Linked DNA regions of Homo sapiens. The protein of the gene in region 1 purifies or fractionates together with the protein of each later gene. This does not show direct contact. Each region holds a gene or a part of one and is shown in the gene's direction. Other genes may lie near its edges.

The links.
Region 2: the proteins of ZBTB18 (region 1) and RCBTB2 purify together in Homo sapiens (affinity purification with mass spectrometry; 2 studies listed by BioGRID and IntAct, with this or other methods). This does not show direct contact.
Region 3: the proteins of ZBTB18 (region 1) and CIC purify together in Homo sapiens (affinity purification with mass spectrometry; 2 studies listed by BioGRID and IntAct, with this or other methods). This does not show direct contact.
Region 4: the proteins of ZBTB18 (region 1) and ZNF131 purify together in Homo sapiens (affinity purification with mass spectrometry; 2 studies listed by BioGRID and IntAct, with this or other methods). This does not show direct contact.

The regions. Positions count from the first base shown.
Region 1 is NC_000001.11:244,047,217-244,054,282, forward strand, and holds the start of ZBTB18 (zinc finger and BTB domain-containing protein 18), read left to right. Parts: upstream 1-4,066; 5' UTR 4,067-4,215; coding exon 4,216-4,228; intron 4,229-5,883; exon of another isoform or gene 5,884-5,984; intron 5,985-6,278; exon of another isoform or gene 6,279-6,571; coding exon 6,572-7,066.
Region 2 is NC_000013.11:48,488,460-48,495,102, reverse strand, and holds the end of RCBTB2 (RCC1 and BTB domain-containing protein 2), read left to right. Parts: intron 1-4,851; coding exon 4,852-4,992; 3' UTR 4,993-6,140; downstream 6,141-6,643.
Region 3 is NC_000019.10:42,286,243-42,293,267, forward strand, and holds part of CIC (protein capicua homolog), read left to right. Parts: exon of another isoform or gene 1-94; intron 95-528; coding exon 529-678; intron 679-763; coding exon 764-998; intron 999-1,077; coding exon 1,078-1,207; intron 1,208-1,302; coding exon 1,303-1,485; intron 1,486-1,567; coding exon 1,568-1,733; intron 1,734-2,645; coding exon 2,646-2,848; intron 2,849-2,938; coding exon 2,939-3,164; intron 3,165-3,605; coding exon 3,606-3,709; intron 3,710-3,990; coding exon 3,991-5,224; intron 5,225-5,315; coding exon 5,316-5,503; intron 5,504-5,843; coding exon 5,844-5,965; intron 5,966-6,057; coding exon 6,058-6,224; intron 6,225-6,323; coding exon 6,324-6,617; intron 6,618-6,713; coding exon 6,714-7,025. UniProt on the Homo sapiens protein: Transcriptional repressor which plays a role in development of the central nervous system (CNS). In concert with ATXN1 and ATXN1L, involved in brain development.
Region 4 is NC_000005.10:43,116,793-43,123,920, forward strand, and holds the start of ZNF131 (zinc finger protein 131), read left to right. Parts: upstream 1-4,121; 5' UTR 4,122-4,331; exon of another isoform or gene 4,332-5,246; 5' UTR 5,247-5,261; coding exon 5,262-5,385; intron 5,386-6,416; coding exon 6,417-6,518; intron 6,519-7,128. UniProt on the Homo sapiens protein: Plays a role during development and organogenesis as well as in the function of the adult central nervous system. May be involved in transcriptional regulation as a repressor of ESR1/ER-alpha signaling.

The DNA.
Region 1 (7,066 bases):
GCACATTTTGCCCAGTTGAAAGGTCTCCTGGCAGGTTGGTTAGCAACAGGCTTGCCAGTCTGGGTTCTGTTAGCAAAGAATAAACACATTTCATTAGACAATGACTAGTGGACTGACTTCCTCACTATGAAGTTGTTTTTTTTTTTCTATTTTATTTTCTTCAGCCATTCCCCCTCCCCCACCACTTGTTATTCAACTTTTTACTTGTAATTCTTGCCTCGATACGATTTCCAATTTCTTGACGGCAGACATTTCCACGTCTTTGTGGCTGTGATTAACGCAGTCTAATTGCCAAGAACAGGTACCGAGTAAAAGTTTATTTGAAGGAAAGAAAAGCGACACAGCAGTCTTACATCGTCCCTCGGTAGTTTAAAGTTGTGGCTAGATACGTATCAATTAAGGAATCAAGCTGAGGCATCTGCAAGTACCAATTTTACTGTAATGCTCTAAAATTTGGTCACTTGGGGAAGTCTTTACTTGTAACAGTGTAAGTACACAAGGGACAGGAGGGTTTTGCGAGAAAGGCGGGCGCTCTGCCCTGTTCTGCCCGTGACATGATGACGTAAGAACGACTCCCAGAAACTGCCTGAGTCGCCTGCGTCCCCAGCTCCCCGATGTGCACCTGGGCGCGGGACGCCGCAGGACGGAGCGAGAGCGCTCCTCGGTCCCGCTCCCCTGCGCACGGGCCGGCGAGGACCCGGGCGTCTTCACCCCCACAGGAAGGAGCAGAGAGAGCCACCCGAAGTCGGCCTCGAGTCATCCGTGTCCCCGGGTGCCCTGCCTCTCCAGGATACCTGCGTAACTCGCAGCAGCCAAGCCCCACTACGTTCAAAAGTGTGTTTGTGGTTGTCACAGTGCACACCGAAAAGCTCGCTCCGCACCCGCAGAGTGCGCGGGGCCTCTGAGCCTGGAAACAAGCCCCTCCCAGCGCAGCTGTCGCCGCCGCCTGCGGGCTCCTTTCACTTTCTCACGGCCAAGTCACCCAGAGGGGCGCCGCTGCTGCCACCGCCGCTGCGCCCGAGGACTCCGCCCCGCGCCGCTTCGCTCCGGATCCCCGCCCGCCCGAGCCCCGCCCACCCCAACAGTTGCTGCCTGCGATTGGAACGCGCGGGAGGGCAGCTACGGCTCGCCACCCCCATTGGCTGGGCCCCCTTGTCAGTCCGACGACTGCCCACCACCCCCTCCGCCTTCCCGAAGAGCCGCCTTCCCATTGGAGGAGTCTGAGGGCTGGGGGCGGGCGGGGAGCGCCGGTCCAGCCGCTTTCGGTCAATCGCAGAAGCCCAACGCCCGGAGGGAGGGAGGCAGGGGAAGGAGAGGGGCGGACTGAGGGTGGGGGGAACATCTGGCCGGCGCCGCCGCGTGCGTGCGTGGTGCGTCCTCCCGCCCCCTCCCCTCCCCCTCCCCCGCGCCCGCCCCCCCCCCGCCCCCGCCCCCCCACCCGGCCCGGCGGCTCCGCGCTCGCTCCCTCGCTCGCTCCCTCGCTGTGTCTGGCAGGCTGCGGCCGCCGCTGGGCTGCTGCCATGGGGAGCCGTTGAGAGTGGGGCCCTCTTCGCTCCGCCGCGCTCCTCCGGCTGCCAGCGGGGGTGGGCGGGAGGGAGGGGCGGGGGGGAGCGGGCGACGGAGCCGGGATTGGGGGGTGGGGGGGCCGGGAGGGAGGGGGGCAAGAGCCGGAGGAAGCCCACCAAGTCCGGCGGCGGCGGCGGCGGCCGGGAGGAGGAGGAGGAGGAGGCGGAGGACGCGGCGGCGGCGGGGACGCGGTGACTTAGGGCCGCTCCGTGTGAGTCCCGGCGCCGGCCCCTGGCCCCTGACCTGGCGCCCCCTCCGCGCCCCGGCACCCCGGCGGGCGGGGGGCGCCAGCTGTGCGGCCCCGGCCGGCTGGGCGGCGCGGGCGGAGGGCGGGCCGGGTCGGGGGCGCCCCCGCGAGTGGAGTTAGTTTGTGTGGTTGGAGCTGTTGGGGCGGCGGGGGGCGGCGCAGCTGCGGGAGGCCCGGGCGCGGGGACGGGGCCGCTGCAGCTGCGGGGTCGGGCGGGGTGCGGGTTCCCGGCTCCGCGCCGCGCCCCCGCGGGCCGGTGCAGCTGCGGCGCGGGGCGGGCTCCCGGCCGGTGCAGCTGCGGTGGCGCCTCTCGGGTGCGGAGGGCGGCGGGCTGGGGGAGGGGGCTTGGGAGCAGCCGCAGCTGCAGTGGCGCCCGGGACGGCCGCGGCTCCGGGGACCGGTGCAGCTGCAGTGGCGCCCGGGGGAGGGGGCCGGCGGGGGAGGGGGCCCTCCCGGGCTGGTGCAGTTGCCCGGAGGCCCCGGGGGCTCGCGCGTCGCGGCATCGGGGAAGCGGTAGCAACCACTCTCCTCCCGCTGGCTGCTTCTTACGACTTTTCTTTTGTTGTTGCCGTGACCCGGGTCTGTTTTCTCCTCTGTTGTTTAAGGTGTTTTCCTGCTGCACCGGCTCTGCGCCCTCCACCTCCTTCCCTGTGGTTTTAACCTTCCTCTTTCCCCGTGTGTTTTATGCACGGCGAACTACGTAAAGATTTGCATTGCTTCCCCACTCGGCACCCCCGCCCCCACCTCTCTGAAAAACAAAACCCCAACCTCACAAAACCTCTATGGATCCGCGGTAGCGAGACGTGAAGGGGTTGATTTGTGGAGTGGGAGTTGCTGGCCCATTGCGGTGCCCGGGACTCATTAAACTGTCACTCACCCCCCACCCCACTGGGTAAATGGGGTGATTAATGTCTGATATATTGGAATGGGTCGAGGGCATTTGTGGAGAATAGGTGGTGTGGCTGGGAAGAAATTGATCTCCCGAGGATGTCTCCTGGACTAAGTGTTCATAATTATGTCACTCACCGCGAAGTTGGAGAAAGTTAGGTTTGTGACTTTGGGAAAGCGAGAAGGACAGGACGGAGTCGTCGGGTTTTGTTACTCTTTAACTCTCCGCCACGGCTTTCTAATGGGAACGAAGTGGTTATCACCAGGGCTGGGACGCTGGCGCCTCAGGCCCCAGTTCCTTTTCTACCCCTCGCCCTCCCAAGAGTCTGAGGAGATGTATTTGACATTCAGAGATGTCGCAGCACCCTGCCCGGTACCGGTCAGCCCAGCCCGGGTCGCGTTACAGTTTCATCAGCTATTAGAAAAGACCCACAAACTGGCTGAAAAGTTCTCAAACTTACTAGACCTGGCTTCCCCCCACACAAAGATTTTCTTGTGATCATAAACATTAGAGTGACCCCCCCCCAAAGAAAAAAAAGATTGTTAAGGGACACAGATCAAGGGGAAGGCAAGGTTCTGCTTTTTCTGAGCAGAAAGATCAGATATGCAGGTGCAGCATTCATTTTAAGTGACTGGAGCAGGTTGTATCAGTTTATTAATTGGTCTCGTTGAACTGAAGTACTTTCCAGGATTTCAGAAAGTGCAGTTTCAGCTTGTTGGTACCGAGAATTGAAATTTGCATTGACTGTGGCAGTGTAAGAAATTTTTCTGAGAAGGTAGTTGTAGATAAGTAATTACATAAGAGTGAAATAATAAGGTGAACCAGTCTGAAGTAATAGTTCTGAACAAGTCTGCCAACATTTGAGACATGTATACCATTATCTCAGCAGAAAAAAATAAAAAAGTGCGGTAATAATGTTGAAATGGGACTGGAGATGTCAAATGGGTTGGTTTAAAAATATCCCTAAACTGCTTTAGAAACTAAACGTTGGAGTTGAATAAAAGTGAATCTGGATTTCCTGAATAGCACCGTGGCTTGAGTGTGCTGTCAGTATGTAAGCCAGTCCACCAACTTAAGACAGAAGTGTTGCTATTCCATAAATACAGTAGAACTCCATATGCTGAGTTTTTCAATTTCTTCTGTTAGAAAGTTTGGAAAAAAAGGAAGACTTTGAAGTATTTTGTTTATACTAACAGAAGAGAAAAGTTCTCCTAAGAAAAAGCTGGTGGCAGGAGTGTAGAGGAGTAGCATATGGCATTAAAAGGAGCACAGCTGGAGGTAGCATTTCCATCTGAACATGATGTCAGAGCAGCTGACAGCCTGCCATCCCTCAGCCTTTTATTCTAACACACAGACAGGGAGTTAGTGTGTGCGGATCTGTGGTGGAGAAGGTATCTCATTCCTCTCTAACATCATCTCCACTTTGCATCTGTCTCTCTTAGTCTGCTTTTTTTCCACCGATGTAACAGACCTGGAGCCAGCAGGACTCAGAGGAAAGGACTTAATCAGGTTTATGTGTCCTAAAGGTAGGAGTAGCAAGAGATTAGATTGAGCATATTTCTGTTTTGGTGTTTTGTTTATTTAATTTTAAAAATCACATTACTTTTCTAACCCAGTTTAGGAATAATATATGAAATTGAGTATTAAATGAACATCTTACTGGAGTTGAAAGTCTTGAGCTTGTTTAGTTTTAATTTTTTATCCCTTTTACTTGAGCGAGTAAATAACTTTAATACACAAATATTTCAAGTTTTGAAATGTTAAGAAAGGCTTTAAAATGCTGCTTTTGGAAATCACGTTGGATTAAAATGCTTTTTTGTTGTTCACTGCTATTTAGATTTGATTGGGGTGGTGGTGGTGGGGAAATAGTAAACTGGAATCCAGCATTCAAACTTATATGAGAAGATTATTCTAGTTAAGCAGCTAGATTGTTGTATAATTAATTCCTCTGTGAAACTTTATTCTTCAAAACATTGAGCAGCACTACTGAAACATACAGCTGTAGTGCTGTTGAAACTGCAGGTTTTTAAGAAGAAGAAAAAAAAACCAAACTTTTGTCCCCAGGAGAATAGTTTGACTGGTTTCCTCATTTCTCTTTCAAATATATATTTAAGAGATCTTTTATTTCAGCATAACAATAATTATTTGCAGGAGTTTTTGTGTTAGCGACTAATTTAGAACTTGTAGATTTGAGCTGCCTGAATTGGCCAGACAGCTGTAATCGCACTCCTCTATTCTTAATCTCTTTATCTGGGCAGCAGCTGCCATATGGCCACAGTCAGCTGGATCAGATGTTTATAAGCTTCCTTCTTCGTCCCTCTCTGTCCTCTCAGCCTCCTAATTTGATCACGGCTACCTTGTGAGCTGCCCTCCAATCTTTATTTTTAGCCTTCTCAAGGATTAGGATTGATGTTAGCTGTGGGGCACTTAAAGTGATTGTATTGTAAATCTTAGTTTATTCTAGCAGTGGCATCTTGCAGAATGTGTCTGGGGTTAGGATAAAGTTTTAGTCTGTCTTGGGCAAAGTGTAGAAGAACAAGAAGAAAGGAAGTAATTTCTGAATATTAAATTAAGTGTATCTATTCCCAAAATGCACTTGCTGAGATGGGTGGTGTGGAGGCTTGCTTCTGGTCACAGGAAAGGGGAAGTCGGGTCTTCTTTATTTTTCAGGAGTTTACCCACTGCAGTTGAATTCTGACCCTTTGTACATCTTTGCCTTTCTCCTCCCTCCATTTCACTTTCCCTCATCACAAAACAAGGGCAATGATGAATATTTGCAAGAATAGAAGCTAGTGGGAAAACAGAAATATATCAAATTATATTGAAACAAAGTATTTTCTGTTGGCTGAGGTAAGGCAGAACCAGGAAAAAAAAAAAGGTTCTCTTTTTCTAAAAAGGCTTAAAAAAAAACGTTGAACCTGTAAAGCTTTTGAGTTTTATTTAAGCGCTGTATGCCTTTATTTTTAAAAGTTTGAATTAATTTCAATATGAAACTCATTTTGCCTTGCAACGGATCAAAGTTTAGATGAGAATTTTCGGAGTTCAGTAAAGCCCCTCTGGTTCCTAATATTCTGAAAGTACAGTTTCTACAAAGAAATGTAACTACTTTTTTCTCAGTTCGTTTTGAAAAATCTTTGGATTTGTTCATAGTAAAGATGATCTTTTCCATCTGTTGGTGCAGCTCCTTCTGATCTCGTACATGTGTGCTATACCTGCAAATCTGAAGGCATTAACATCTGTTTTTATACACAGGGCTTTTGTTGTAACACCCTGACTTTAAAAGTAAGTTGTTTGCTAATTTCTGGACTAATTATGCAATTTCATTTTTTTTTCTTGATTCAGCCAAATGTGTGTGTGTGTGTTTAAACTGTGCTTTCTAAGCACAGTCAGGTAGCAAAAGTAATAAAAAGGATGGTTGAACAAGTTTTCTTGTATGTTCCAGGATATGTTTGGGACTTTTCTTTGTTTATTATATGAGTTGTTCCCTTTGAAATTAAAGCTATTTTGTAGGTTTTGTGGGACATAATTTGATAAGTAGAGTTAATTAAATTTCTTCTGGAAGAGATCTAAATTCTTATTCTTAGTGAGAGACTGTAGTTAAAGGAAGGCTTTTAGAACTTGGGTTCAAGGAAGATGGAGATGCGTCGGAAGCTCTTTGGCGGGGGTGAGGAAGTTCAGAAAGTGTGCATTTTCCTTCTGGCATTTAGGTCTTGTCCGTGTGATTTGGTGGTGCTTGGGTCATAAGCCTGATTAAAATTCAGGGACATGTACCACGGCGGCCAAAGCGGAATTAATTTTTTTATATGGGGACTGGAGCGCTGAAAAGTTGTTCCTGACCAGGCTCTAATGAGAAATTCCTCTCTCCCCAGGTTATGAAGACAGTATGGAGTTTCCAGACCATAGTAGACATTTGCTACAGTGTCTGAGCGAGCAGAGACACCAGGGTTTTCTTTGTGACTGCACTGTTCTGGTGGGAGATGCCCAGTTCCGAGCGCACCGAGCTGTACTGGCTTCATGCAGCATGTATTTCCACCTCTTTTACAAGGACCAGCTGGACAAAAGAGACATTGTTCATCTGAACAGCGACATTGTTACAGCCCCCGCTTTCGCTCTCCTGCTTGAATTCATGTATGAAGGGAAACTCCAGTTCAAAGACTTGCCCATTGAAGACGTGCTAGCAGCTGCCAGTTATCTCCACATGTATGACATTGTCAAAGTCTGCAAAAAGAAGCTGAAAGAGAAAGCCACCACGGAGGCAGACAGCACCAAAAAGGAAGAAGATGCTTCAAGTTGTTCGGACAAAGTCGAGAGTCTCTCCGATGGCAGCAGCCACATAGCAGGCGATTTGCCCAGTGATGAAGATG
Region 2 (6,643 bases), on another chromosome or scaffold:
AAGAAAACAGAGACATTTTAGTAGATGAAAGGTTATAACTTTTTTTCTGTTTACATAAATAATACTATGCTTATTAAAGAAAATTTGTAAAAGACAAAAAGTGAGGAAGGTAATGACTCATCAACCAGAGAACATTAGCACTTTCATATAACAGCTTCTGAGTTTTTGTTTTATGTCACATTATATATTTGTAAATACTTGAAACCTAGATTTTTTTTCACTTAACATTAAAAAAAAAGTACTACCTCAAAACAATGACATTTAACAGCACAGTGAATGTTTTATATCAAGGCAATAACATATTGGGCACTTACAACACAGAATGTTTCATGGTCAGACAAAATCCATGCACTTTTCCTAGTCCATTCTTGAGCATCACAGTGATGAGCCACGGTGATGGAGGGCCATCTCAGATGTCAAGATGGTGGCACGTGGTGTTTGCATCTGAATCAGGCTTCATTTTTAATACTTTTTTATATTCTCTATTTATGTGAATTATTTGTCTGGCTACCTTCCAGCTCTCTGTTTTCTAGAAAGTAAGCTCTTTGAGGCATGGCAGGGACTTTGTTTTGCTCACAACCATATCCCCAGCGCCTAGGACGGTGTCTGACACAGAGTAGGTACCTACTAAATACCCCTTTCATGGATGTTCAGTTTTGCCTATAGAGATGCACTGTTGTACTACAGCCTGTCCAGCTAATTGCTGTACCCTAAATTAGTATAATAGACTATAAGTAAAATAGACTGTATATGTACTTAATGTAAAATACAAGCTTTCGTAAATAAAGAACAGTGCTGTATTTGATTTGCCTGGCTCAAATAAGCAAGAAATGGGCTCTTTCAGCAAATTATTATCCCTCATGCTGGACTGTCACTTAGTACATAATTAATATGAGCCAGGGATTATTCTAAGCACAGTTCATGTTTCATTTACTCCTCAAAACAACCTTATATGACATAGGCATTATTATATTAGATCCAGTTTATAAATGAGAAAACTGAAGCTTGGAAAGATTAAGTAATCTGAGTAAACTAGTAAACTGCAAAACTGGGATACAGTCCAAGATTGGGCACATTTTAAAACCGCATGTTTAACTACAATTCTCCATTGTCCTCAGTATTTTGAAATCAGGAGTATTTATGCATGGATTCAACAAATATTCACTGAGTGCCTGCTACATGCCTGGCACTGCCCTACGCACTGGGGTACTGCAAATGAACAAAACAATCCAAAATCTCTGCTCTCATGGGAATTTCTGGTGAGGGGAGATAGGTGATCAATAAATGAATAGGATATATAGTATGTCAGATGGTGACAAGTGATATGGAAAGAAGTAAGACAGGGAAGACAGCCTAGGGAATGCCATCCTGAGATGAAAGTTGAAATTTTAAATAGAATGGTCAGGGAGGCAAGACATCAGTGAGCAGGTGACTCAAGCAGAGACCTGAAGGAGGTGTGGGTGGTGTGTTCTGGGAAAAGCAAGCCCGGTGTGGAGGGAGCACAGTGGGGAGGGAAGTAGCTGATGAGGCAGGGAGATGGTGCGGTGGAGGTGCACAGTGGCGTGTGTGGGAGGAGGCAGGGCCTGCAGAGTCCATAGGCAAGTTTCAGGAATCAGAGTTCCAAGGTGAGTGGCCATCAGAGGGTTTGGAGAGGAGCAGATATGATGGGCATTTGAAGTAATCCTCCTGCCTCCTGGCTGCTGTGTTGAGGAGGGAGGGAGGGAGGTAGGGAGAGAGAGAGAGGGTGAGAGAGAGAAGAGAAGAGAGAGAGAGAGAGAGAGAGAGAGTGTGTGTGTGTGTGTGTGTGTGTGTGGAGAGAGAGAGAGGGTGAGAGAGAGAAGAGTGTGTGTGTGTGTGTGTGTGTGTGTGTGTGTGTGAAGGAGGGTACTTAGGAGGCTGTATAATCCAGTAAGTGATGATGGTGGATTGGTCCAAGTTATCACCTGTGGGGATGGTAAAAAGTGGTTAAGATTTTGAATACATTTTGAAAGTAGAGCCAACAGGATGTGCGGATGGATTAGATGTGAGGAAAAAAAAGACGACTGAGGAGGTTCTGTCCCTCAGCAGCTGTAAGGATGAAAGTGGCATCTATTGAGATATAGAAGATAGGAGCAACATTTTGGGGGAAATATCAGAAATTTGGTTTTGAATATGAGAAGTATGTGATGTCTATTAGACATCCAAATGGAAATGTCTAATAAGCAAATTGGATAAGCAAGCCTGGAAGTCAGAGAGAAATGTGCTGAAGTCAAAGCTATGAGGCAGTGACGTGAGACAGGTTTGAAGATTAAGTCCTGAGCACTCTGTGCTTAGAGGTTAAGGAGATAAGGAGACACCAGCAAAGGAGACTGAAGAGGAGTGAGCAGTAACGGAAGAGAGAAACCAGCAGACCGTTTCCTGCAGGCTGGGAAAGAAAGCGAAACAGGAAGGAAGAAGTCCGAACCACACCAGATGCTGCTGGCACGTCTGCACGAGGACTGAGAACTGACGAGTGGGTTTGGCGATGAGAACGCCGGAGGGGCCTTGGCAAGCAGTTTTAGCGCAGTGAGGCGGGAAGTCTGATCGGAGCGTGGAAGTAGAGGAACTGAAGATGGGGAATAGAGGCAGCTTTTCATGGTAATTTTATTATAAAGATAAAAAGGAAGAGCTTTGGGGCATTTGAGGTAAAACATCTTTACTTTTTTAAGATGTGGGAAATGGAAGCTTGTCTAATGATGCAAATGACTCAGTGAAGGGGAACAAGCCAGTGATGCAGGGGACAGTTGGTAGAGCAGGGCCCCTTAGTAGGTGGAGCAGTGGGATCTAGTGACAGAGCAAGGGCTCTGCTTTCTATAGGGTCTTGGACCTTTGATCCAGAGAAGATTGCATCCACAGGCCTCTCTGTAATAGGCAAGGAGACGTGGTGGGGAGAGCTTGTGGAGGTTCTTTTCAAGTGATTCTGGTTCTCAGTGAAATAGGAAGTCATGTCAGCTGAGGATGAGGATGAGAGGGGAGATGTCAGGCTTATGGGGAGAAGTATGAGAGTCCTGTAGGAGAATGAGCAAACTAGGAGAATGTGGTAGGACTGCAGGACAGAACAGAGGGCCCCATTTTGAACATGAAGCCATACAGAGTGGTAGCATTCAAAATAGACTACAATTCTTTAACTGAAAAATAATGGGGGCCTTGTTTTCTATGGACAGAATTCCCCTATAACCAGTACCACCACCCTATGCCAATTTATTGAATTCTTAGAATCACAGGAACTCTTTCCAAGTCCTGTCCTTAATTTAGTATTTAGGGGAAGATCCCACTCTAGAATAAAGTAAAGGAGCATGGATCCAAGTGATAACTTTTTAGGGTCCTTTCATTCTCCCATTAATTAGCAATTTTCCTGATGCTGTCCAGATCTGTGAGGCATCAAACTGCCCAGCCACCTAACTCCAGACACACTCTAATGTGTGTGGTGTAGGTATGAATTCCTCCATTCCTCTCTGTAGACTTCAGCCAAAGAGATGATGCATCTCTATCTGGTTTCACTTTTGTGTGCTGTAGGCAAAAATGTCATTTCTAAAAATTTAAGCAACAGCACATAATTTTAAATGGACTCTGAGATATTCAGCATGTATCATTGAAGCACATTTTTATGTATAGTATGCTGTGATGACAAGTGGGTGTGTGAATTTTCCCTGTTTATCACTGAGGGCTTACCTGGGACAGAGACACATCATATTGCTGGTGTGGTACCAACAGCCTGCCCAGTTATCTTCAGGCATGAAATAAACATTTTCCTAGTATAGTTTCTTTCTTTTCTTAAAAGAAAATGTACCGTAGGTTTATATGTACATTGGCAAGGCTATCAGCATTGCTATTTTTTTTATTTTTTCCATCTTCAGCATTTGCTATAATTTATGTCTAAAGAAGAAAAGACTATCGTGTGTAATGTTCATATGTAATTGCTTAGAAAGTATTTGGGGCTTTTATTTTTTATAAATTACCTACAGTAGCTTGGAGAGGAAACTTTTAAAAATTGACCACCACCTAGCAGCATCTTGTCCTAGGCCAAGTAGCCTAGGGTTTGAGGCATATTGGAGGTCTCAGCACCCTGCCCTCACTTCTCCAGGGCCAAAAAGCATCTGGTCAGCCTCATTCTGATTTTCAAGTTATAGTTCTAATCAAGAGAATTATTACAGCATTATTCTTTGGCCCAGAGTGCATTACAGTAAGCCAGAAAACACCAATCTGTTGGGTCTCTCTTACCAGAGACTTGGAAGTCATGATTTCTTTAAAGCATTTTCCCAGTTGAGATTATTGAAGGCATATGTAGTGTGATCAAATCCATCCATCCCATCCTGTGTCGTCTCATAAAGAGAAAAAGCGGTGGCCTGTTAATGACTTCAGAGCAGCAATTTCTTGGCATTACTGCTTTTTATGGCTTACCTTTTTCTTCCATCAACTCTTTATAGGCAGACATACTTAAAGACGCTGATATAAATATAAAAGAGGAGTATAGGGCTTTTAACAATTATTGAAAGTGAAATCAACAGTTACAAATACTGTCACTAGACAAAGGTACCAAGGAATTCACACACTCACATGCCTATCTCTGGGAAGAAAAAGTTAGATTCTTTACCTAGGTTAGTGCGGAGGAACTTGAATGTTACTCTGTGCTACTTAAATTTTTACAAGCATAGATGATTCATACTTGTTATACTTTTTATGACTATTCTTTAGGTATTACCATGCCATCATTTCCTCCACTTGCCTATTAAATCCTTTTTCTTTGCCTAACTTGTTTTAGCGATTTTCATGCTATGTTGCATTGAATTAGTAAATATGAATTTATTAAACCATCTTTGTTGTTGTTCCTAGGATTTAGAAGAATTCTGCTTCAGGTTTTGCATAAACCATCTGACTGTAGTAACACAAACATCAGGTTTTGCAGAAATGGACCATGATCTCCTGAAGAACTTTATCAGCAAAGCAAGCAGAGTTGGAGCCTTTAAAAATTGATCCCATCTGCAGGAAAGTTTTTGAGCCTTTCCATTTCCCCTGCAAAAGCCAGAGATGAATCACTTCTCTTTAATTAATAGTATGTATGATGAGCTATGTTTGGCTGAGTACTTGTAACTGTCAGAAGAAGGATGGTGGTGAGTGGTCTTTGTCTGCCTAAACCCAGAGTTTATGTAGAAAGCATTGAATGTTCTGATCAGATGTGACTAAGGTCAAGGAAAAAAAATTGAAATATCTTATTTACCATTTCCTCTTTTTGAGTCACTTAAATTGGACACCTTTGGTACCCTGGTCTCAGTATATGCTATTCTGGCCCAAATGTTCCATTATTCAGCTGGCTGATACCACATAGATAGCTTGACAAGGAGTGCTGTCTGTCCTTACCACATTTTCAGCACTCAGCACAGTGCCTTGTGTATAATAGGCACTCAATTTATTATAAATCTTCAGTATGTCCTGAGAACAGCTTTAGTCATGGAATACTGGGAGAAGGAATAACTTTCACAAAATAAACTTAAAACAGCCTGTAATTATTGAGGTTCATATTCTTCTGGTATATCATTCTGAGAAATTGTGGCTAATTTAGAACATTGTTTAGAATTGACAAAAGGCCCTGGCAATTAAATTGTCAAGGCCCAAGGGCTAATTTTAATTTTCTTTTTACTTGGAGTCATTCATTAATTTCTCACATGGGATTATGGAGTATGAAGTATTATCTTTGAATGAAATTCCTGGGCTGATCTGCCTTACATAATCACATAAGGTCCTTTGCTTTTCTTTGTGTTAAGAGGGACTTGCCTCTGTAAATGAAAATGACAATGTGCTTTTCTTGTAGTTGACTTTCATGTCACTCACTATAAAATAGGTCTCTTAACCTGGCACCAGTATAACTATAAAGCACTAGCTGAGAAGGAACTGATACTTACATTTCATGGACAGCATTAACAAGAATGAGATAAATTTGTACTTTTTAGATCAAAACAAATTACCTAATTGCAAAAGAGAAACTGAAATGGAACATAGTCTCAGATTCTTCTAATGTGTATCTCACAATGTCATGTAATGTAAAGGAAACCCTTTTGGAATTAGAATTCTTGTTCTGATGCTGAACTATTTGGTAATAAAGTGCTTATTTGCAGATAACAGAACAAATGTGTTGGGGTTTTTTTTAATCCCAAAACAGCAGCAAAATTATAAAATGTCAACCTCATGTCTCTTAGATGTACATAAATAAATTGGATATATTATGCTCTTATCAAGCAGTTACTCGGATAAAGTCTCATAGGAAAGCCCACCCTAGACCACAAATAGCTTATAAACAACCTAATTATCATTCATATTATTGTCTTGGTCTGCTCTTTATTGGTGAGGTGACTTTTTTGAAGACTATTTTTGTAGAGCAGTTTTAGGTTCACAGCAAAACTGTGAAGAAAACACAGTTTTCCCTTATGCCTCATGCCCTACACATGCGCAGCCTTCCCTGCTGTCAACACCCCCCACCAGAGTGGTGCATTTGTTATACCTGATGAACCTGCTTGGACACATCATTATCACCCACGGTCCATAGTTTACATTAGGGTCCATTGTTGGTGGTGCACATTCTGTGAGTTTGGACAAATGTATAATGACCTGTGTCCATCATTATTGTATC
Region 3 (7,025 bases), on another chromosome or scaffold:
GACCCCACAGCCTGTGCATAGTGAACGGAGAGTTGGAGGGGAGGGGACGTGGGGCCGTATGCCTCAGGAAAGGGAAAGAGAGCATGAGGCCAAGGTGAGACGCTGTGTTGGGCGGCGACTGGGCTGCTGGGAATGTGGCATGACGGGGGTGGGGGTCCCAGCCCGTAGAGGTCTGGGGCCTTGGGAGTGTGGGATGGCAGCCAAGCATGACCTGGTTTGTGGCAGGAGCAAATCGTTCCTCTGGCCTGGTCCCTGGTGGCAGGGCTGGTGGAGATTGGTGGGGGGAGGAGTGGGGCGTGAGTACTATTTCCCTTCCCTGCTTCTGTTTTCTTTTTTATAAATCTAGAAACCTTTCAGGGAGGAGTTTTTCCTGAGTGACGTTGCATGGACGAGTCCAAGAGGCTCTGGTGTTGGGGGTGGGGGGTAGACAAAAGGGGTGGGGCTACCTCATCTAGGGTGGGGAAGAGCTTGAGTTGGGGTTGGGGCCAGGCTCTCCTGCTGCACAGCTCACCTGGCTCCTTTCCACAGTGTGGACGAATGTGGAACCTCGCTCTGTGGCTGTGTTCCCTTGGCACTCCTTAGTCCCCTTCCTGGCACCCAGCCAGCCTGACCCCTCCGTGCAGCCGAGCGAGGCCCAGCAACCTGCCAGCCACCCAGTGGCCTCCAACCAGAGCAAAGGTGAGGGCTGGTGGGGACTGGGGGGAGGCAAGGGTGTGGGGTCCAGGTGGCCTAGGAGCCCTCTGATCTACCTCTGTGTCCCCAGAACCTGCTGAGTCGGCAGCTGTTGCTCATGAACGGCCACCAGGTGGGACAGGGAGTGCTGACCCTGAGCGGCCCCCTGGAGCCACATGCCCTGAGAGCCCAGGACCCGGACCCCCACACCCTTTGGGGGTGGTGGAATCTGGTAAGGGTCCGCCTCCCACCACGGAGGAGGAGGCCTCCGGCCCCCCAGGAGAGCCCCGGCTGGACAGTGAGACAGAGAGTGACCATGATGATGCGTGAGTTCCCTGAGGCCTGGGACTTGGGGGTGGGATGGCCAGAGACATGGCCCTCACTGTCCCTGCTGCCCCGCCGCAGCTTCCTCTCCATCATGTCTCCTGAGATCCAGTTGCCTCTACCGCCCGGAAAACGTCGGACCCAGTCCCTCAGTGCCCTACCCAAGGAACGGGACTCATCTTCTGAGAAGGATGGACGCAGCCCCAACAAGGTACTTTATCCCTGCCTGTCCTGTGCTCACCCCGTGGCCACCCACACCTGTCTGCCAGGTCCTAACTGTCCCGCTCTGGGCTGTGTTTAATGCAGCGGGAGAAGGACCACATCCGGCGGCCCATGAATGCCTTCATGATCTTCAGCAAGCGGCACCGGGCCCTGGTCCACCAGCGTCATCCCAACCAGGACAACCGGACCGTCAGCAAGATCCTGGGCGAGTGGTGGTATGCCCTGGGGCCCAAGGAGAAGCAGAAGTACCACGACCTGGCCTTCCAGGTAACGCTGTTGCCTCTTGGCTCCTCCCAGCTTCTTCTGGTGGGGTGGGTGAGTGAAGGGTTGCCCTGCCCTCTCCTGCCAGGTGAAGGAGGCCCACTTCAAGGCCCACCCAGATTGGAAGTGGTGCAACAAGGACCGAAAGAAGTCCAGCTCAGAGGCCAAGCCCACGAGCCTGGGGCTGGCAGGAGGGCACAAGGAGACGCGGGAGCGGAGCATGTCGGAGACGGGCACTGCTGCTGCCCCTGGGGGTTAGTCAGCCCCTTGGCTCTCCCACCCTGCCACCTCCCTCCCCGAGAGCCACCAGCTACCCCCTTGCTTGCTCCTCCCCTGCCCCAGCAGCTCCTCTCTGCTCTATCGCTTTAATTTGGCGACCCTTATCCGTAAAGGAACCGGCAGTTGATTCATGTGACGGAGCCAGGGAGATCCACACAGATACTAAGATTCCCAAACAGCAATCTCGTTATCAACTGTTGTTTAACGAGTGTTTACTATGTGCCTGGCACTACAGGGAATATAAGCTGTAGTCTGCAAAACCCCATTCTATTTCTAGAAGAAGAAACTGAGGTTCAGAGAGGCAAAATCACTTGCTTAAAGTCATAAACAAGCAAATGACAGAGCCAGAATGTAAACCCCAGTTCGGCGGGCCCCCAGCACCATAGTTGGGGCCACTGCAGCTCGCAAACACCCCTGATGGGCTGCTTCCACTTATTGAGGTTGTCTGGTGTGCCTGGCGGTGTTCTGGGGCACATTTTTGGAGTGAGCCTATGGGTATGGCAGTTCTGTGAGGTTAGATGGATAGTTGCTATGGATATGCACTTCTATGAGAGTGGGGACACTAGTTACTTCCTCTTTGAGATGAGGGAACCGAGGCTCAGGCCAGCGGTTGGCTAGCCAGCACCACATGAACCTCTCTCCAGGCCTCCTTACTTTCAGGAGGGCTGCCCCCCAGGGAATGGGCCTGCTGCAACCCCAGAGGGCAGGAATCAGCAGGAATGAGATGCTGGACTGGTGGTGGGTGGTGGTTTTTTTTTTTCACCAAGTGGCCCAGAAATTCCAGCCTGCTTCTGCCTAGTACCTAGAAATATCTATGGGTTGTTGGGCCAGTCTAGGTGCTGGTGACAGGCTTACTGACTGTCATAGCGCCACTCTCTACTTTACAGTGTCCTCTGAGCTCCTGTCCGTTGCAGCCCAGACACTCCTGAGCTCAGACACCAAGGCTCCGGGGAGCAGCTCCTGTGGGGCAGAACGGCTACACACAGTTGGGGGACCTGGCTCAGCCCGGCCCCGAGCTTTCTCCCACAGCGGGGTACACAGCCTGGACGGCGGAGAAGTAGACAGTCAGGCGCTACAGGAACTGACGCAGGTCTAGGGTGCAGGCCCCCTAGTGGGGGTGGGCAGGGAACCTGTCCAGGGCAGCAGCCCCGCTGAACCCTCTCTGCCACCTATCCTGCAGATGGTGTCTGGCCCTGCATCGTACTCTGGCCCAAAGCCTTCTACCCAGTATGGAGCTCCAGGACCCTTTGCAGCCCCTGGTGAGGGAGGTGCCTTGGCGGCCACTGGGCGGCCCCCGCTGCTGCCCACCCGAGCTTCTCGTTCTCAGCGTGCGGCCAGTGAGGACATGACGAGTGATGAGGAGCGCATGGTCATCTGTGAGGAGGAAGGGGATGATGATGTCATTGGTGAGCATTGCAGGGCCCAGAATCTTGCCCAGGACCCAGCAGGCCAAGGCTCAGAGGGTGGGCAGAACTTGGATCCAGGCCCCTAGGCCCCTTTGTTTTCTTTTCCACTTGGTTTATGGTTGCATGTGGCCAGTTCAGGCCCTGCCGAGTAAATCCAGCCCTGCCCTCAGGAAGCCCCCAGCCCTGCAGGAAATCTGGAGGACAGGGGGCATGACCAGATCTTCAGGTGCAGTGTTAGGGGCTCTGTCCTGCAGGCTCATAGGCTCCTGCACTGGGCAGTGGGCACTGGGCATGTGGGCACAGCCCTGGGCTGAGGAGTAGCCTTCCTGGACAGCACTCCCTGCCGGTTTGGAGCAGAGCTGAGATCCAGGCTCCAGACTGTTTCTCCTGGGTCCCCCTGCATCTAGCCCCCTCCCCATACTGTTCCCTCCACTCCCTCAGCTGACGATGGCTTCGGCACCACTGACATTGATCTCAAGTGCAAGGAGCGGGTGACCGACAGCGAGAGTGGGGACAGCTCTGGGGAGGACCCAGAGGGCAACAAGGTGAGGGCTTGGGTCACGGTGCTGTCCCATCACACTCCCTCCTAAGCCATGGGAATGTCTGTTTCTCCCGGGCTTGAGAGAGGGGGAGATTAAGGTCCAGAGAGGGCAAGCTGCTTGCCCCGTGGGGAGTTGGGTCATAGTCAGGATGAATTGAGGCCTTCAGCTGGCAGGGGTGCAGCCCTAGGCTGGCCTGGCTGACAGGCTGGATGGGCATGGCTAGGGGGCTGCTATCGAGGTGTCGGAGTGTCCTGACCTGGGGTGTCTCCCTTCCTTTCATGCAGGGCTTTGGTCGGAAGGTGTTTTCACCTGTGATCCGTTCCTCCTTTACCCACTGCCGCCCCCCACTGGACCCTGAGCCCCCAGGGCCCCCGGATCCTCCTGTAGCCTTTGGCAAAGGCTATGGTTCCGCCCCATCCTCCTCTGCGTCCTCGCCTGCTTCCTCCTCAGCCTCGGCAGCCACCTCCTTCTCACTGGGCTCAGGAACCTTCAAGGCCCAGGAGTCTGGTCAGGGCAGCACAGCGGGCCCCCTACGGCCCCCACCCCCTGGGGCTGGGGGTCCAGCGACACCTTCCAAGGCAACCCGGTTCCTCCCAATGGATCCTGCCACCTTCCGGCGCAAGAGACCCGAAAGTGTGGGTGGCCTGGAGCCACCAGGCCCCTCAGTCATCGCGGCCCCTCCCAGCGGAGGAGGAAACATCCTGCAGACACTGGTGCTGCCCCCAAACAAGGAGGAGCAAGAGGGCGGCGGAGCCAGAGTGCCCTCCGCCCCCGCCCCATCACTGGCCTATGGGGCCCCAGCAGCTCCCCTGTCCCGTCCTGCCGCCACCATGGTCACCAATGTGGTGCGGCCTGTCAGCAGCACTCCTGTGCCCATCGCCTCTAAGCCCTTCCCCACCTCTGGCCGGGCTGAGGCGTCTCCAAATGACACAGCAGGTGCCAGGACTGAAATGGGCACTGGGTCTCGGGTGCCTGGGGGCTCCCCGCTGGGTGTCAGCTTAGTGTATTCGGACAAGAAGTCGGCAGCAGCCACCTCACCAGCCCCACACTTGGTGGCTGGACCCCTGCTGGGCACTGTGGGGAAGGCGCCTGCCACTGTCACTAACCTACTGGTGGGCACCCCGGGGTATGGGGCCCCTGCGCCCCCTGCTGTCCAGTTCATTGCCCAGGGGGCCCCTGGTGGTGGGACCACTGCGGGCTCAGGAGCAGGTGCTGGGAGTGGCCCCAATGGGCCAGTACCCCTGGGCATCCTGCAACCAGGTGCCCTGGGCAAGGCTGGGGGAATCACCCAGGTACAGTACATCCTGCCCACGCTGCCCCAGCAGCTTCAGGTGGCACCTGCCCCAGCACCAGCCCCTGGGACCAAGGCAGCGGCTCCCAGCGGCCCTGCACCCACCACCAGCATCCGTTTCACCCTCCCACCGGGCACTTCCACCAACGGCAAAGTCCTGGCTGCCACTGCACCCACTCCTGGCATCCCCATCCTGCAGTCTGTACCCTCCGCCCCACCCCCCAAAGGTGAGACCTGGGCCGGGCAGCACTAGGGGAGGGGCCATAGTCCTGTTTGGCTCCCTTGTAACCTTTTCCTTTCTTGCCTCTTAACTTCCAGCCCAGTCAGTTTCTCCCGTGCAGGCCCCGCCCCCGGGTGGCTCAGCCCAGCTGCTGCCTGGGAAGGTCCTAGTGCCTCTGGCCGCCCCTAGCATGTCAGTGCGGGGTGGAGGGGCCGGCCAGCCACTGCCACTGGTGAGCCCGCCCTTCTCAGTACCTGTGCAGAATGGTGCCCAGCCCCCCAGCAAGGTGAGGGCCTGCCTTTCTCTCTACCTGCTGGATGTTGGCCCCTGTACCCCATCATTTCTTTGTCTTTTTTTTCAGTCTTTTCTCCTTCTCCATGTATCTGGTTCTCTGTCTTGCCATCTTCCGTGATGTCTCTGTGCATCCTGACTCTCTCAAGTCCTCAGTGTCTGTACCCTCCTCCTTCTCTGTGTCCCCACCTCTCACTGTCATCTTGCCCATCCTGTTCTCACCCCAAGTTCTGTGTTCCTTGCTTTTGCTTAGAGTCCCACTTGAGGTCTTGGTCTTCCCCTGCCCCAGTCTGGGGCCACAGCTCACCCTGGCCTATGGGTGCCCTTCTCCACAGATCATCCAGCTGACCCCGGTGCCTGTGAGCACACCCAGCGGCCTGGTGCCGCCCCTGAGCCCAGCCACACTCCCTGGACCCACCTCTCAGCCTCAGAAGGTCCTGTTGCCCTCCTCCACCAGGTAATTGCAGCTGAGCCCATACTCAGAGGCCAGGGAAGGGGTGGGGCGGGGCCGGCTTACCTCACTCCTCCCCATTTCCTCTCCTGCGGCAGAATCACCTATGTGCAGTCAGCGGGCGGGCACGCGCTGCCCCTGGGTACCAGCCCTGCGTCCAGCCAGGCTGGAACAGTCACCTCGTACGGGCCCACGAGCTCTGTAGCTCTAGGCTTCACCTCGCTGGGGCCCAGCGGCCCCGCCTTCGTGCAGCCCCTGCTCTCAGGTGAGGGGCGGCCTGGCAGGCAGTGCTGGGGACCCAGGGTGGGGCTGAGGCAGTCCGGGCCCTAACTTGGTCTCCTGCTTCTTCTTCTCTGTCTTTCAGCAGGCCAAGCCCCACTGCTGGCTCCCGGTCAGGTGGGCGTGTCACCTGTGCCCAGTCCCCAGCTGCCGCCTGCCTGTGCAGCCCCCGGAGGTCCTGTCATAACAGCATTTTACTCTGGCAGCCCTGCACCCACCTCCTCAGCACCCCTGGCCCAGCCATCCCAGGCCCCCCCAAGCCTGGTCTACACTGTGGCCACCAGCACAACCCCACCTGCAGCCACCATTCTGCCCAAGGGCCCGCCAGCCCCTGCCACTGCCACCCCAGCCCCGACTAGCCCTTTCCCCAGCGCCACAGGTAGGTGTCAGATCAACCCAGAGCAGAGTGAGTTGGGGGACCCAGGGGATGGGCTCCAGTCAGGCCTGGCTCAGCAAACAATTTTCTCCCCACTAGCAGGTTCCATGACCTACAGCTTAGTGGCCCCCAAGGCCCAGCGGCCCAGCCCGAAGGCCCCCCAGAAAGTGAAGGCAGCCATCGCCAGCATTCCCGTGGGGTCCTTTGAGGCAGGTGCCTCTGGGCGGCCTGGCCCTGCACCCCGGCAGCCTCTGGAGCCTGGCCCAGTCCGAGAGCCAACTGCCCCAGAGTCTGAGCTTGAGGGGCAGCCCACACCACCAGCCCCTCCACCCCTGCCAGAGACCTGGACTCCCACGGCCCGGAGCAGCCCCCCACTGCCCCCACCTGCTGAGGAGCGGACCAGCGCCAAGG
Region 4 (7,128 bases), on another chromosome or scaffold:
CATAAATACTTTTTCTCTCCTATTCTTGAATTTTTAGTAGATGACCTGACCATCTATTTCAGGAAGAAAATAGAGGTCTTCAGTTTGATAGGAATTTCCTTAACTTCTTGAAAGCAAATCTACACTCCTGATAACTTTCAATCCATTAATCCCTCTCTTGTACAATTAGCTCCTTTTCCTCTTGTACTTTTATTTTCTTCCTCTGCTGGATCCTTCCCCCTCACCATTTAAATAGCCTAAGTCTCTCCCATCAAAACACACAAAAATAGTAAAACTGGCTAGACTCTATAGGTACTCCTTTCAACTCTTCTCTCATTTTTAAATGAAAGTTCTAAAACTGCTGTCCCAATTTTCCTAGCTATTCCTTAACCTACCTGAATATAGACTTCTCACCTCCCCTCTCTTCCCCTCAGAACTCCATTAAATCTTTTCTTGCTAAGGTCTTCTGCCAAAGACATTCATGATGCTAAATATACCAGACCATTTCCAATCTTTTTTTAGCTTGACCACTTGACCACTTGGCAGCATTTGGCACTGCTAACCACACCATTTTTTTTTTTTTTTTTTTTCCTTGAGATGGCATTCTGCTCTTGTTGTCCAGGCTGGAGTGCAATGGCGCCATCTCGGCTCACTGCAACCTCCGCCTCCTGGTTTCAAGCGATTCTCCTGCTTCAGCCTCCAGAGTAACTGGGATTACAGGCGCCTGCCACCACACCTGGCTAATTTTGTATTTTTAATAGAGACGGGGTTTCTCCATGTTGGTCAGGCTGGTCTCGAACTCCTGACCTCAGGTGATCCTCGGCCTCCCAAAGTGTTGGGATTATGGGCATGAGCCACTGCACCTGGCCCACACCCTCTCTTTTGAAACACTCTCCTTTCACGGCCTTATTGATGTCATACTCTTCCAGTTTTCCATCTTTCTTCAGCTGCAATACTCAGTCCTTTCAGCTTCTTCCTTTTCTACTCAATCCATAAACATTGATACTTTTTAGATAAAAAGTCCTACACTCTCTTCCATTCTCCCATTTGGGACTAGGAGTCCCAAACTCAAATGCTTTCAGGGACTAAGCAAATAAGGAAAATGAATGATAGCTGAGTCTAAAACATTAGAAATTGGTGGGGATTATAGGGAACTGGACAGCTCAAATCCTATGTAGAAAAGGGTTCTCCATTTGGTTAAATTCAATTGCTGTAAAAGAAGAGCGGTCCTATATACTGGAATTTCCAAAAAGCCTATTTTTGTGTCCAATTTCTTCATCTTAAGAAATACCGTGGCCAGGCACGGTGGCTCATGCCTGTAATCCCAGCCCTTTGAGAGGCGGAGGCAGGCGATCACCTGAGGTCAGAAGTTCGAGACCAGGCTGGCCAACATGGCAAAACTCTATCTCTACTACAAATACAAAAAATTAGCCAGGCATGGTGGCAGGCTGTGTGAATAATAACAATTATGATAATATTTAATTTAATTTATGTGTTATTTTATATTTATTTTTTTTTTGAGGCAGAGTCTTGCTCTGTCACCCAGGCTGGAGTGCAGTGGCACGATCTCGGCTCACGCCATTCTTCTGCCTCAGCCTTCCCAGTAGCTGGAACCACAGGTGCCCGCCACCATGCCCGGCTAATTTTTTTGTATTTTTAGTGGAGACGGGGTTTCACCGTGTTAGCAAGGATGGTCTCGATCTCCTGACCTCGTGATCTGTCCGCCTCAGCCACCCAAAGTGCTGGGATTACAGGCGTGAGCCACTGCGCCCAGCGTATTTTTTTTTTTTTTTTTTTTTGAGACAGACTCTCGCTCTGTTGCTCAGGCTGGAGTGCAGTGGCACGGTCCCAGCTCACTGCAACCTCCGCCTCCCGAGTTCAAGCGATTCTCTTGCCTCAGCCTCCCGAGTAGCTGGGATTACAGGCGCATGCCACCATGCCCGGCTAATTTTTGTATTTTTAGTAAAGACAGGGTTTCACCGTGTTGGTCAGGCTGGTCTCAAACTCCTGACCTCATGATCCACCCACCTCGGCCTCCCAAAGTGCTGGGATTACAGGCATGAGCCACCAGCTGATGATAATATTTTAAAACACCAATTCAATCTACAAGCAGCTAGCCTATCACTCCTGCAGACTCTCTTTAAACAATCCCATCTATTCTTAACACTTCAATATTCCTTTTATGCTGTAAACTTGCAAATCTCTATCTCTACGGTTAGTCTTCTTCCCTAAACTATATGTAGGCCCATATATCCAAGGGCCTCTAACATTATCTCCTTATAATAACACCTCTGGTTCCATCCTCTCTCCCCATCCAGCTCCGCCAGTTGTATTTCCTATTTTGGTAGATGGTGCCAACAATCTACTGGCTCAAGCCAGAAATCCAGGAGCCATCTTTGACTATTCTTTCTCCCTTGTCACCAATATATCCAGCAATATTTATTTAGTATCTATGGCATGCTTTACAGCCAATGTTGGTTCTATCTCTAGATTTTTTTTTTTTTTTTTGAGACAGGGTCTCACTCTGTTGCCCAGGCTGGAGTGAAGTGGCACCATCTTAGCTCACTGCAGCCTCAACCTCCCTGAGCTCAAGTGATCCTCCCACCCCAGTCTTCCAAGTAGCTGAAACAATAGGTGCACACCATCACTAATTTTTTTGTATTTTGTAGAGACGATGTTTCACCATGTCACCCAGGCTGGTCTTGAACACCTGGGTTCCAGCGATCCTCCCCGACTGGGCCTCCCAAAGTGATGGGATTACAGGCCTGAACCACTGCGCCCAGCCTATCTCTAGATTCTGACCAGCTCTCTAATTCCATTTTCCCCCATGGTTTCATCTACATTACTAACAGTCTCCCAGTTGATCTCTATTCCTAGCAGCTTGTCCCATTTAATCTGTTCTCCATATTGGGGCTAGAATTATCTCTTTAAAAAGTACATCTTAGGATGTCACCATGCGGCAAGGCTTCCCCTTGCAAAAAGAAAATCTGACATCTTCAACACTTTTTATAAGGCACCCTTGTGCGTCTATCCAGCAACATTGTTTCAGTTTCCTGAATGCTATAATCTTGGTGCCTTTGCATGTGCTATACTTTTGGCTAAGAACACTTAGACTTCACATCACTTAAAAACATTTTTTGTTTTAATACAGATGGGGTCTCGCTATGTGCCCAGGCTGGCCTCAAACTCCTGGGCTGAACTCCTCCTCCCCAACTCGGCCTCCCAAAGTGCTGGGATTACAAGCGTGAGCCACCGCGCCCGCCCACATCTCTTCTTACAGGTCAACTGGCTTTCCTTGACACCCAGTTACTTCGTTCTTCAGGTGTTGCAAAACTCATCAGCAAGCACCTAGGCAATTACTGTTCAAAATATCTATGCAGTCTACTAGACTTAAGATTCAGAAAGGCAGAAACCACATATACCTTGTTCACAGCTGGACTTCTCAGTGTCTAGTACTAGGATTCTCAATACATATCTGTTGAAGTTATGATGACATTATTACCATATAGCTATTTGAGTTCCTCCGTAATCCCAATTCTCAAGTTCTTTGAGAGAAAAAAATAAGTAAATCTCAATTATAGAATTATCCTCAAAATGTATTTATATATAATATTTCTTTGGAGGAATTAAGGAAGCAGTCACATGCAGCTGACTGTGGGTCACTGGACTTTTTTTTTTTTTTGAGACGTTGTCTCGCTCTGTCGCCCAGGCTGGAATGCAGTGGCACTACCTCAGCTCACTACAACCTCCACCTCCCCGCTTCAAGCTATTCTCCTGCCTCAGCCTCCCGAATAGCTGGGATTACAGGCGCCCACCACCATTCCCGGCTAATTTTTGTATTTTTAGTAGAGACGGGGTTTCGCCATGTTGCCCAGGCTGGTTTCGAACTCCTGACCTCATGTGCTCCACCCGCCCAGGCCTCTCAAAGTGTTGGGATTACAGGCATGAGCCACCGCGCCGGCCTGGACTCTTTAAAGGAGTGGGGAAGGCCTGCACTAACGGGATCCGGTGTAAATAATTCTGAGCAGCTCCAGGTCCTGAGCCCAGCAAGCACGTGCTGCGGCAGGGCGCGGGGAGGGCGCGCTTCGCGGAGGAAGATTCCGGGCGGCCCGAACGTGCTCGCGCCCGTAGCTGCCGCTGCCGGGGCCGCGGCCGCCCGGGTGCCCAACCGAACGCACGTGCGCCAGCGGGGCCCGAGCAGAAGGGGAGCCCCGGCTCTCACGAAGAAAATGGAGGGCGACCCACGGGTTAGGGGTCAGGAAAGGCGTGGGGCGCATTATGCCCTGGGAGGGGAAAGCACGGAACAAGAGGCTCTGAGGGACGGAGAGGAAGGAGGGCGACCCACGAGCTAGGTAAGGCGGGCCAACCCAGGTCTCGGAAGGAAGGGGGCGGGGCAGGACGGGGCGGGAGGGGCCGCGCAGTAGCTGGGCTGTGAGGACGGTTGGCGAGTTCATTCCGGGCTCGGGTCGGGAAGTGTCCGCCCCTGGAGTCAAGCTGGGGAGGGTGAGAGGTTGAAGGGCAATGACTTAGGTTCCCAGCTTCTGGCCCTGCCAGGCTCTGCAGTAGCCCAAGCCCACCGCTGCCCGGTTTCTTCTCAGAGAGCAAGCCCTCGCCCTTCGTGAGCGCCAAATCCCCGCGCTCGGCCCCGCCCATCCACTGAGGGGTGTGGGTAGGGGCGTGGCCCGTTCCCTTGCTGGTCGGCGCCCGGAAGGCGTCCGCGTCAGCCGGAGCTCGACGCGGTGACGGTGTGCGTCGACGTAAGTGACGCGCAAGCCTGGGCCGCTCCTCCTTCCCTCAGTGAGTGCCGGCCCGGTCGGGGCGGGGGAGAAGAGGGAGGGCGGGGGAGGGAGAGGCGACCCGAGAGTCGTTGTGGGTCGCGGGCCGGACCGGGTCCCGGGGCGGTGGGAGCCCCGGCCGGGCAGAAGGGCTTGGCGGGCCGTTAGAGGACCGCCACGGCTGTCGAGTCCCCTCCCTTGTTGGACTTGCGCGCCCTGGCGCTCGGAACCTCCGGCGCTGTGCCCACCCCGCTCTAGCTCGCGTCTCCCGACTCCAATTAGGTCAGGCTCGGAGTCCCGCGGCCGCGGCTCCGGTCTCAACGCTCCGGGGCCGCTCGGCTCGCCTTTCTTCCCTCGCCTTTCTCTCCTCTTGCTTCACCCTCCCCCCTTCTTTTCACGTTGCTGGTTTTTTTTGTTGTTGTTTTATGCTTTAGGGGTTTTGTTCCTCGGCTCGAGCTCATGGGTGTACATTATCATGCTCTTCTTTTGTAGAGCAGCCCGACGGCCATGGAGGCTGAAGAGACGATGGAATGCCTTCAGGAGTTCCCTGAACATCATAAAATGATCCTCGACCGATTGAATGAACAGCGAGAGCAGGACCGGTTTACTGACATCACCCTAATTGTCGACGGTGGGTAGGGCAGTGGGCAGAGGAGCGAATTTTTGGCTTCAGTTTTTTTCTGTCCTTCGGACACCCGCCTTTTTTTTTTTTTTTTTTTTTTTAACCCATCCTCTATGGTCTCCCTACCAAAGTCTGCAGAGTGTGTGCACTGGGACCAGATTGCACTTGTCAGTGTCCACTCACACAGCGTGCTGCAGAAGGCTGGTTGGTCAGTCATGCCTTCCACGTAGTCTGGTGTTCATCTCATTTTAACTTCTTACATCCTGTTGAGTGCAAGATGATGTCGTTGGGGACAGATTGTCTCAAAATGTTTGGTTGATAGCCTCTTGTTGGTAAGCTTTGAGAAGTCCCTTACAGGAGTCATTTGGGAAGTGTTGATTTTTTTTCTAGTTTCCCAAATGGTCTTGAAGGGAGAATGAGAGATTCCATTGCAGCACTCATACCCCCTTTGAGAATCTCCAAAATAAAATGGGGTCTTTACCAGCCTTAGGAGTTGCCTCTATAATGGAAGGAAATCCAGCGTGGGTATGTTTTCTGTTTAGCGAAAATAGGTTTCTCAAGGTAACCTGTTTTTAAAATTATGGGTCTACCATAGATGGAGCTTCCAAATATTAGGCATATTAAAATGTTTTTCATAGCAGACATATCCAGCTTTGTGCTTACGGTTTTTTTCTCTCTTTCCAAATGATATGTGACCTTTTGGGTTGTCCTTTTATTTAGCAGTTTCAACTGAGTTGGATATGCTTCTCACTACTTAATTGGAAACAACAGAGTGTCAAGAGGCTCCTTACCTAGTGTTGTAAATTAGGCTTTATAAAACTAAAGGGGTTTGAAGTGAAGATTTAGCTTTATATCTAATTGAGATTAACATTTGCCAAGATAGCTGCCAAGAATATTCTGCATTTAGTTCAATAATTTCTGTAGTTACGTAATGAAGGAAGACCTATTTTGCTTTATATGATTTTTAAGTCTATTTTGTAGTTATACATTTGATTTTCGTGCTTGTGTATGATTTTCTTTTTTTTTCTTATTTTACCTAGGACACCATTTTAAGGCTCACAAGGCTGTTTTGGCTGCTTGTAGTAAGTTCTTCTACAAATTCTTTCAGGAGTTTACCCAAGAACCATTGGTGGAGATAGAAGGTAAATGATTCTTGTTGTTTTTTTATTTAATAAATCAAAGAAGCCATTTTATTTAAATGCTTGTTTTAAATACAATACTTAGCAAACAATTGGTGAAGCAGTTTTAGACAGTTTATCAAGACACCATAGGAAATAGGCATCAGTAGTTCCTGTAGGTAAAGGTAGATAAATTGTTCTTTTGATACCTGAGAAGTCTTACTTTCAGTGAAGTGCTTGGTTGAATGATCTGCCAGGAAAAACTTAGATGGTAGATGTTGGTCTTTTCCATTGTGGAAACTGGTGGTCATTGTTTTTTGAAAACAAGTATTAAACGTGAATTACTATCTTTGTTCAGTGGGCTTATGTTTCAGACTGCTGGAGATGCTGCAGGTTACAGTAGAAGCTTTTACTGTACTCTATAGCAGAAGTAGTGATGTATTAGCAGAGGTACAGATGACATGCAGTGTGAAGTGGGCTGCCATAATAGGGAGAAAGCTAGGAAAAATGAACTGAAGTAGCATTTAGAGGAAATTCTGGCTCTACAATGGGATGGATCAATACCTGTTACCTTGAAGCAAAAAGTGATTTTTGTACTTTCTAGACATTTTTCTAATAATAACCTGCCAAGTGC